3 linked regions of the Homo sapiens genome follow. The protein of the gene in region 1 purifies or fractionates together with the protein of each later gene. This does not show direct contact. Each region holds a gene or a part of one and is shown on either strand. Other genes may lie near its edges. The genes, in order: CHRM5, KIAA0232 and TRIM26.

Region 1 (2,890 bases):
ACCCATTTATTTATGCTCTGTTCTTAGGAAGACTAATTGTGTAAGAGCCCTTCACTGGCTGAAGATTTTCTCCAGGCTGTTGAATTAAGGTTCTTATATTGTTTTCAGAGATCTTGCTTTCTAATCTCTTCACAGGGCAAACCTGAGCAAAATGTGGAAAACAGATTTGCTTTTGAATTTCTTCCAGAGCCCTTTTGCAGCCTCCAATTTCCCTTGTTCAGATCCCCAGTTCACACCAAGACGCAAGCAGGTCAGCTGTGCTGCCTCCAAGCAGGGGGTTGTGGGGTGAGGTGGGGGTAGAAAGTCTTTTTTTATAGGTCCTTCAAATCAGGGCCTAAAAATGACTTCTTTATTCCTCTCCAAATTCGGTCACAAATGAGAAGGCCAGAAAAGCACACTTGAGGGTGCGATGAAGCTGAAAATGATCTGAAAGCTTCATTTTTAAAAACAAAGTGTAGGTCATAGTAATACATAAAAATAAAACAGTTGACATGCATGACAGCATGAGGATTATTAAAAACCACACTTAATTGAAATCTCTAAGTGCGTATAAACAAACGGAATCAAAGGACCTTTGTGGACAAAAGTCCACAAAGAAGCAGTAGTGTGGTACACAGCAAGGATTTTAAAGATGAAGCACTCCTGTCAGACATTATTTAACTCGTTGGTTACATCTGCAGCTGGACTTAAAAATCACCAGACTTCATGCGTCTTAGTGTAGGCCGGGTCCTTTTCAGTCTCATTTGCTAAGAGGATGGAAAATTAGCTGGTTTAGTTGTCCTGGGAATTAGATATGTACCTGAGTATGGGAGAGCTTCAGCCTACCACTGAAGAGCATCATCAGCCTCTCACAGGATGTCCCACGGAGGCTTCAGGGTAGTAGAATCTCAGGCAGGACGGGACTGGTCCCTTATAAAGACTTCACGTTGACATGAAACATCTTGTAAGCAGTGCATCTGCTGAGCCTTTGTAAAGGGCAGGTTGACACCTGCAAAGAATTCGGTGGGAACAGTAATTGGCTCAGTTCTCCAGCACAGAGGCTTTCGGGCCTCCGTGATGCCAACTGGGTGTGACTTCATGAGCAAACCTGCTCTACCAGCGCCAGATAAACAGTTGAGTCTTCGTTTAAGGCTTTGATTCCTGATAAAGATGAAAACCCCTTCATGAGAATAGGCTTTTAAGCCCATGTTGGGCATTCACCATTCGCAGTTGAGAGTGAAACAAGCTAATTTAAACAAAAGAACACAAATCGGGAAAGGATGCCATGGAGGGCACTCCTCGCACACTCCGCACTTGCTTAGGACTTGGCCTTTTTTGTTCATCTTTTGTGAAATTGATTAAGAAGTGTATTGCTGGGTGTGGTGGCTGACACCTGTAATCCCAGCACTTTGGGAGGCTGAGGCAAGAGGACTGCTTGACCCTAGGGGCTCAAGACCAGCCTGGCAACATAGGGAGACCCTGTCTCTACAAAAAAAATTTTAAATACCTGGGCATTAGCAGGGCATCGTAGTGTGTGCCTGTAGACCCAGCTACTTCAGAGGTTGAAGCAGGAGGATCGCATGAGCCCAGGAGTTAGAGGTTGCAGTGAGCTATGATCACACTACTGCATTCCAGTCTAAGTGACAGAGCAAGACCCTGCCTCAAAAAAAAAAAGAGAGAGAGAGAGGTCAATGCTTCTTTTTTTATCATTGGTTTTGGAAAGCAGCCAGTTTTGCAGACTACCTATGCCTCTTGACATAGACAAAAAATATCCCAAACTACTAGGGACAACTAGACTTCTATAGAATAGCGGCTTTAGTGGGGTCCTCAGAATGAATAGACCTAATTGTAAACTACAGGGACCTGATGGGTGGGTGGGAGGCGCATGGCCTGACTTGAGATCTTAGGCCTTCTATGCCCCCAGTCTTCCAGGCTTTGTCTATAGTAAACCATGTATGACTTTGGCTAGTTACCTACTGGATGCTGTTACTTTGCTATCATTGTAATTTGTTTCCCCTTGGCTGTGAATTTGATGACTTGTCAGGGAATCTGTTTTCCATTCAATTTTTGGTTGAACAAAGCATTTTGTCAATATTCTCAGCTTTTGCTTCGCTCCTTTGGTGAATGTCCTTTGAAGACAATACTGATGCCAGCTCTTTGTAATTGTGAAATCTGTACCCAAACCTCTGGATTAGAATCTCCAGTTGTCTACTGTAAATACTGGAATTACAGCAAAGGATATGGGGACTGGGCTGCTTTTCTGTATTGTATAAGCACTATTCTAGATATTAAAGAAATTTAACCGCACAGTGGTCCAATGCAGAGCATTTAAATAAGAAAATTGTTTCAGAGTAGCCTATTAGATCCATCTATATTGGGTTTCCCACACACCTTTGCATGGCCTGGCCTTTCAAGAAAGTTGGGATTGATACACAGTATGGATACACGTCCTTCTTGCTACCTTTTGTGATTCCTCCTTCCCTCTAAGTTACCAATGACCAAACTAAGATTAAATAATGATGACAAGAGATCTGTGAGTAAAACGCTTTCCCTTCCCTATGGGACAAGGGAGGTGGGGCAGACCTGAAACCACAGTCCTTTACCGAGTGGAGACTGCACAAAAAGGGGCAGCAGCATTTCCTTGTCAACTATTTAAAGAGTCGGTGCCCCACTCCATTCCCATTGTAAGTGATACTAATTTCCATCTTCCCCACATCATTTTACTGGTAAAGTTCAAGATTATGTAAACTCTTGCCCAATAAAGACCCCAGATCGAGAGTGAGCGGAAGAAGGGAAAAAAGTTTAATTGTCAAAGAAGAAGCTGGAAGCAATTAAAAACAAAACAAAACTTTTTTGAAATCATTTAAAATTTACAGAAAAGTTGCAAGAGTAATAAGAAGAACTCCTAATG
Region 2 (3,659 bases), on another chromosome or scaffold:
TGGTTTGGAGCTTAGAATTCAGAGATACCAGCATCACAATGCAGGCCCCTTGCAGTCTGGCCCCCAGTCATCTCTGTACTTTATCTTGTCCTCTTTGTCCCCTTTCCACACTGTCCAGCTAAACAAGACTGCTCTTGGTTCTCTGAACATGCCAAGCTATTTCAGACCTTCTTTGCTTATATTCTTTTCTCTTATTGGAATGTCCTGTCTCACTCCCACTCCCTCCAGTTCTTAAAAGTTCATATCAAATATTCTGTTCTCTCTGGAGTCCTTTGGAAGTCCTATTACAATGAATTATTCCTTTCCTCAATCATAGTTCTCTATTTTTCCTTCATTATTGTCTATATCATGTTGTATTATAAATTGGTCATAGTAAACTCTGGCTGTGGTGTCTATCCTATCATTTTGCCCCCAACACCTTGCTCAGGCGTTTAAACATAAGTGCTTAATGTTAAATGTAAGTGTTTAAATGTTTGCTAAATAAAGTCAAAGTCTGTAATCAACCTTAAAGAGTATGTTAATATTATAAAGTATATTTATTTTTATTTTTTCTGACCCTGGCTTAAGTCTGCAAATAAAGTTTGTTTGTTTTTGAGACAGCATCTTGCTTTGTCACCCAGGCTTGGAGTGCGGTGGTGTGATCGTGGCTCACTGTAGCCTCAACCTCCCAGGCTCAAGTGATCCTCCCACCTCAGCCTCCTGAGTAGCTGGGACCACGGGCATGCACCACCATGCTCAGCTAATTAAAACAATTTGTTTTTTTGTAGAAACGGGTCTCCCTGTGTTGCCCAGGCTGATCTCGAACTCCTGGGCTCAAGCAATCCTCCCACCTCAACCTCCCAAAGTGCTGGGATTACAAGCATGAGCCACCGCACAAGACCCAGATGAAGTATTTTTAATAAACATCGGTGCCCACAACAACATTAGAAATGTAGTTTTACTATGTTGAATATAGTTACTATTTAGAATATTTCTTTACAGTTATTTTTGGTCTTTCACATAATCACATAAGTGGTATTTTATACAAAGTAAAAACTGTCATCTTTCCCATTTGTATCTAAACTTGTAGGGTCTAATGAAATAGATGAAGTGCCTGCATTGCTGACTGTGAATCACCGACCCATTTTTTGGGCAGAGGGAACCAGAGCACAAGGTTAAAAATATTCCTTGTATTGGCCGGGCGCGGTGGCTCACGCCTGTAATTCCAGCACCTTGGGAGGCCGAGGCGGGCGGATCATGAGGTCAAGAGAGTGAGACCATCCTGGCCAACATGGTGAAACCCCATCTCTACTAAAAATACAAAAATTATCCGGGCATGGTGGAGCACGCCTATAGTCCCAGCTACTTGGGAGGCTGAGGCAGTAGAATCTCTTGAACCCGGGAGGTGGAGGTTGCAGTGAACCAAGATCACACCACTGGACTCCAGCCTGGCGACAGAGCAAGGCTCTCTCAAAAAAAAAAAAAAAAAAAAAAAATCCTTATATTTGAAGTATAATTTAATTCCCAAGAGATTACATGCTTTTTCTTTAAAAGTTTTCTTTTTTAGAAATTTATTATATGCATCAAAAGCAATTGCGTTTGAGGGGGCTTCTTAAAAGAATATTAGAACTGGATTTGAAAGACTCAGGTTTGCTTCTTGGCCGTGAACAAGTTTGTTAAATCCCTTTGGAAGTCAGTCAGTCTTTATTTGGGAACTGAGAACGGTTATTCCTGTTGCTTTGTAGTACATTTAAAGAGGCTATGCTTTGTGTACTGCACATCCTTACACAGATACAAGGTAATCAGATGTTTTGCTTTATAGCATTTTTGTCCTACTTGTTACCCAGCCTGGAAACCTTTAGAGACTTCCTTTCTTGACCAGATTTTTACCAGGTTTGCCTCCATGAGTCTTTTCCATCAGTCTTTTTCTTTACTCTTTCATGTTTCCTCTGCCCCTACCCTCCCTGAAGCTCTTACTCCTTATGAAGATAGTTACTGTAGTCCTCCAACTGGCCTCTCTTTTTTCTGGTCTCTCCTCCTCTGTTCTGTTGCCAGAATTATTTAATAGGCAAATCAAATCATATCATGACCCATTTCCCAAGTATACACCAGAGGTTCTCAACATTTCCCTCTATTCCATCACACCTGAGGGATACGACAGTTTTGTTGGTAAGGTTATGGGCTTTCTCCTCCCAAGATTTTTACCTTGGAAGTGCTACCACACTCCTCCCCTGGTTGAGAATTAATGTTAAAGAGTTAGGAAATCACTGTAAGATCTTTGCTATCTAGCCTCATTCTTACTTTTAGCTTAATCTTTTATTGGATCTCTTCTTTTTCGTTTTTGTGTTTTTGAGACAGGGTCTTACTCTGTCACTCATGCTGGAGTGCAGCGGTGCCATCTTGGCTCACTGCAACTTCCACCTCCCTTCCTCCTGCTGCCTTGGCCTCCTGAGTAGCTGGGACTACAGGCACATAACGCCTGGCTAATTTTTTGTAGAGATGGGGTTTTGCTCTGTTGCCTAGACTGGCTTCAAACTCCTGGGCTCAAGTAATCTGCCCGCCTTGGCCTCCGAAAGTGCCGAGATTATAAGCACGAGCCACCACGCCCAGCCTGCATCTCTTCTTGTCACCTTATATTTCAACACAAGACCTCTGGCCACTTCCGTTATTGGCAGACTACTCTGAAATATCCTTTCCACCTTTCTCTCTCTTTCTGAGTCTTGGAGTCTTGGCTTAAATGCTGCTACTTCTATTTCTGTAACCTGATTTTCAGAATTAACTCATTATTTTTCTCCCACACAGTGCTAGCCTGATACCTCTACTTATCTATTTTTTCCTTATGACTTTTTAGTTTATATACATGAAGGTCTTTCCTGGATTATAAACTCCTTGAGAGATGTAGAGGAAAATCTTAATCATTTCTGATTTCCTCTAGTGTGCAATATAGTCTTTTACATAGTACTCATTTGTTAAATGTTTGACTGAATTAACTCAAAATTTACAGTCTCTGATTTCAGGAGGAGGAGGATAGAGTTGGAATAACTTTGTATGAGAACTTAGTGAATCCACGTGACACACTCAGAACAGGGCCCAGCATATAGTAAGTGCTCAGTAAGTGGCAGCTTTTAGCTATTAATTTGAATAGGTGGAGACGACACTAGTGGTTGGATACACTGGTTAATTGTATATGCTAGTTTATTATGACAGTGTTCACATATTTATTTCTGGTGTGTGTGTAAAGAAAAAAATCTCATTTTCTTTCTTTTTTTTTTATTTTTATTTTGAGACAGAATCTCGCTCTGTCGCCCAGGCTCGAGTGCAGTGGCGCGATCTCGGCTCACTGCCAACTCCACCTCCTGGGTTCACGCCATTCTCCTGCCTCAGCTTCCCGAGTAGCTGGGACTACAGGCGCCCGACCACAACGCCCGGCTAATTTTTTGTATTTTTAGTAGAGACTGGGTTTCACCGTGTTAGCCAGGATGGTTTTTATCTCCTGACCTCGTGGTCTGCCCGCTTTGGCCTCCCAAAGTGCTGGGATTACAGGACTGAGCCACCATGCCCGGCCTTTTCTTTTTTTTTTTTTCCCGAGACTGAGTTTTACTCTGTCACCCAGGTTGGAGTATAGTGGCGTGATCTTGGCTTACTGCAACCTCTGTCTCGTGGGTTCAAGTGATTCTCCT
Region 3 (2,885 bases), on another chromosome or scaffold:
GGTTGGGGAGCGCACAAAGGGTGGGAGTCAGAGCAGGGCTACCTCGTAGAAAGAGCGCACCCAGCTCCTTTCCATCACCTTGTCGATCCTCACTCTTCTGAGGGCCTCTTGTCTTAGACATGGATCCCTATCAGGAAATTGATACTGCCCGAGCAAGAAATGGGCTCATAAATTTTCGGGACTTGAGTCATTGCTGTCCTTTTTTCTCCCCAGGGAAGCTGCTGAGAGACTTGGAATATAAGACAGGTGAGTGTCTAGAGGGTGTTTCCCAGATGTACATCAAATATAGAAAACTCCGCCTGCAGAGATTCTGACTGCTCACTTTTCCCCCAGGTAGCCCCTTTTGCAACAGGAAGAATTTCCCAGCTGCACAATAGAAGCCCCCCTCCCTCTTTGCACTTTCTAATCAGCCTACTCTTTAGTCTGCAGTAGAGGCCTCTGCTTGCTAGTCTGATCCTTCTCTGCCCTGTGTTTGCTTTTCTTTTTCCTATCCTCACAGGTCCTACCACCAGTCCTTTTCCTGTGGCCGAGCTTTCTCTCATCTTCCTGGCTGCATGGCTCCTATATTCAGAGCAAACAGCAGGGGCAACCTAAGACCAGAGGCCATATCCACCACAGGCCCCACTATTGTGCCCCCTCTCAGCCCTGCAGTTAGGTTGTACACTGCATACCAACCACCAAGGAGCGCCATCCACATAGACCAAGATGTGAATGGTGCCCCTTGGATTGTGAAGACTGGTGGTCTCCTCCTGGCTCACTTTCACACTTGCTTTCGTGAGAACCATTGAGGAGGTCGGCCTGTCTGGGAGCAAACGAGGCCCTGAGAGCTTCATCTAGTTCACAGGATAAAATCCCATAGCAGAACTGAGTTAGCAGTGGTTAAACCTTAGGTGGTTGTAGCTTCTTTATTAATGTCTGAGCTGTCTGTGAATACCGTCAAATTTTACCTATCAGGTTATTCTAATTATAGAGAATCCTATGAGGATGATGGTGAGGATTATCCCACTCTGTCAGTACCTGTTCAGGGTTTCTTGAACCATCTTACAGAGCAGGCTGGTAGTTTTGAAACTGAAATTGAACAGTTTACAGAGACCCTGAATGCTTGTGTTACAACAGATGATGCTTTGCAAGAACTTGTGGAACTCAGAGGCCACATCTGTCCCAAATTTCTTTTTTTTTTTTTTTTTTTTTTTTTGAGACGGAGTCTCGCTGTCGCCCAGGCTGGAGTGCAGTGGCGCAATCTCGGCTCACTGCAGGCTCCGCCTCCTGGGGTTCACGCCATTCTCCTGCCTCAGCCTCCCGAGTAGCTAGGACTACAGGCGCCCGCCACCTCGCCCGGCTAATTTTTTGTATTTTTAGTAGAGACGGGGTTTCACCGTGTTAGCCAGGATGGTCTCGATCTCCTGACCTCGTGATCCACCCGCCTCGGCCTCCCAAAGTGCTGGGATTACAGGCGTGAGCCACCGCGCCCGGCCTTTTTTTTTTTTTTTTTTTTGAGATGGAGTCTTGCTTTGTCTTCCAGGCTGGAGTGTAGTGGTGTGATCTCAGCTCACTGCGAGCCCCGCCTCCCAGGTTCACGCCATTCTCCTGCCTCAGCCTCCTAAGTAGCTGGGACTACAGGTGCCCACCACCATGCCCGGCTAATTTTTGTATTTTTAGTAGAGATGGGGTTTCACCATGTTAGCCAGGATGGTCTCGATCTCCTGACCTTGTGATCCACCCGCCTCGGCCTTCCAAAGTGCTGGGATTATAGGCGTGAGCCACCGTGCCCAGCCCCAAATTTCTCTTACATGGGAGCTCACCTGTGTAATTACCTGACATCATCTGACAGTTAGCACAGAGAGTAGCACCTTCCGCCAATTTCTACTTCAAAGATGTCGGACTGAATATGACATTAAAGATCAAGCTGCAAAAGGGGATGAAGTTACTCCAAAACAATTTCATGCATTTGTACCCTTTCTGGGAGAGCTTTATCATAACCTGGAGATCAGAGGAACAAATGGACAGGTTACAAGGGCAGATATTCTTCAGGTTGGTCTTCAGGAGTTGCCGAATGCCTGAATGCCCTCTTTTCTAATCCCGTGGATGACAGCTTAATTTGTGCAATAAAATTGCTGAAGTTGACAGGGTCAGTTTTGGAAGATTCTTGGAAGGAAAAGGAAGGACTGATATGGAAGAAATTATTCAGGAAATTGAAAATGTTGTTATAGATGCAAGCTGTGGCAGAGACATGAAACAGATGCTCTTGAAGCTTGTAGAACCCCAGTGCAGTAATTGGGGTAGAGTCCATGCAACTTCATCATACAGAAATACAACAGCCAAAAAAGATCCCAATTACTATGTGAATGAACCAACATTTTATAGTGGTCATTCACATAGTTATTGTGTTTCATAGTGTTCCTTTCACTGCAGCTGATCCGGATTACCAAGAAGCATATCAAGAGTTACTTGAAAAAGAGGACTTTTTTTCTGGATTATGAAGAAAATGGAACAGATTTTTCAGGGACTGGTGATCCACACTTGGATGATATTAATGATGAGTTGGACCCAGAGATCCAGAGATAGAGGAAGCTTATGAAAAGTTTTGTTTGGAATCAGAGCGTAAGCGAAAACAGTCAAGTTAAATTTCAGTATATCATGTTTATAAAGCAGTTTAGTTATGGTGATTTAGCAGAATACAAAGCCAGAAAATGTGTCACACTTATACCAAATTAAGGATGTTGAGTTATATTACTAATGTATGCAACTTTAATTTTGTTTAACGCTATCTGCCAAAATAAATTTTATTCCCTCTGACTTAAAAAACAAAACAAAACAGTGATGCTGTTTTTTTTTTTTTCCCTTGTCCCCACAGTGAGCGTCACCCTGGACCCACAGTCGGCCAG

Evidence for each region.
Region 2: the proteins of CHRM5 (region 1) and KIAA0232 purify together in Homo sapiens (affinity purification with mass spectrometry; one large-scale study listed by BioGRID and IntAct). This does not show direct contact.
Region 3: the proteins of CHRM5 (region 1) and TRIM26 purify together in Homo sapiens (affinity purification with mass spectrometry; one large-scale study listed by BioGRID and IntAct). This does not show direct contact.

The regions. Positions count from the first base shown.
Region 1 is NC_000015.10:34,065,173-34,068,062, forward strand, and holds the end of CHRM5 (muscarinic acetylcholine receptor M5), read left to right. Parts: 3' UTR 1-799; coding exon of another isoform or gene 800-841; 3' UTR 842-2,286; downstream 2,287-2,890. UniProt on the Homo sapiens protein: The muscarinic acetylcholine receptor mediates various cellular responses, including inhibition of adenylate cyclase, breakdown of phosphoinositides and modulation of potassium channels through the action of G proteins.
Region 2 is NC_000004.12:6,785,727-6,789,385, forward strand, and holds part of KIAA0232 (uncharacterized protein KIAA0232), read left to right. Parts: intron 1-3,659.
Region 3 is NC_000006.12:30,186,528-30,189,412, reverse strand, and holds part of TRIM26 (tripartite motif-containing protein 26), read left to right. Parts: intron 1-213; coding exon 214-246; intron 247-2,854; coding exon 2,855-2,885.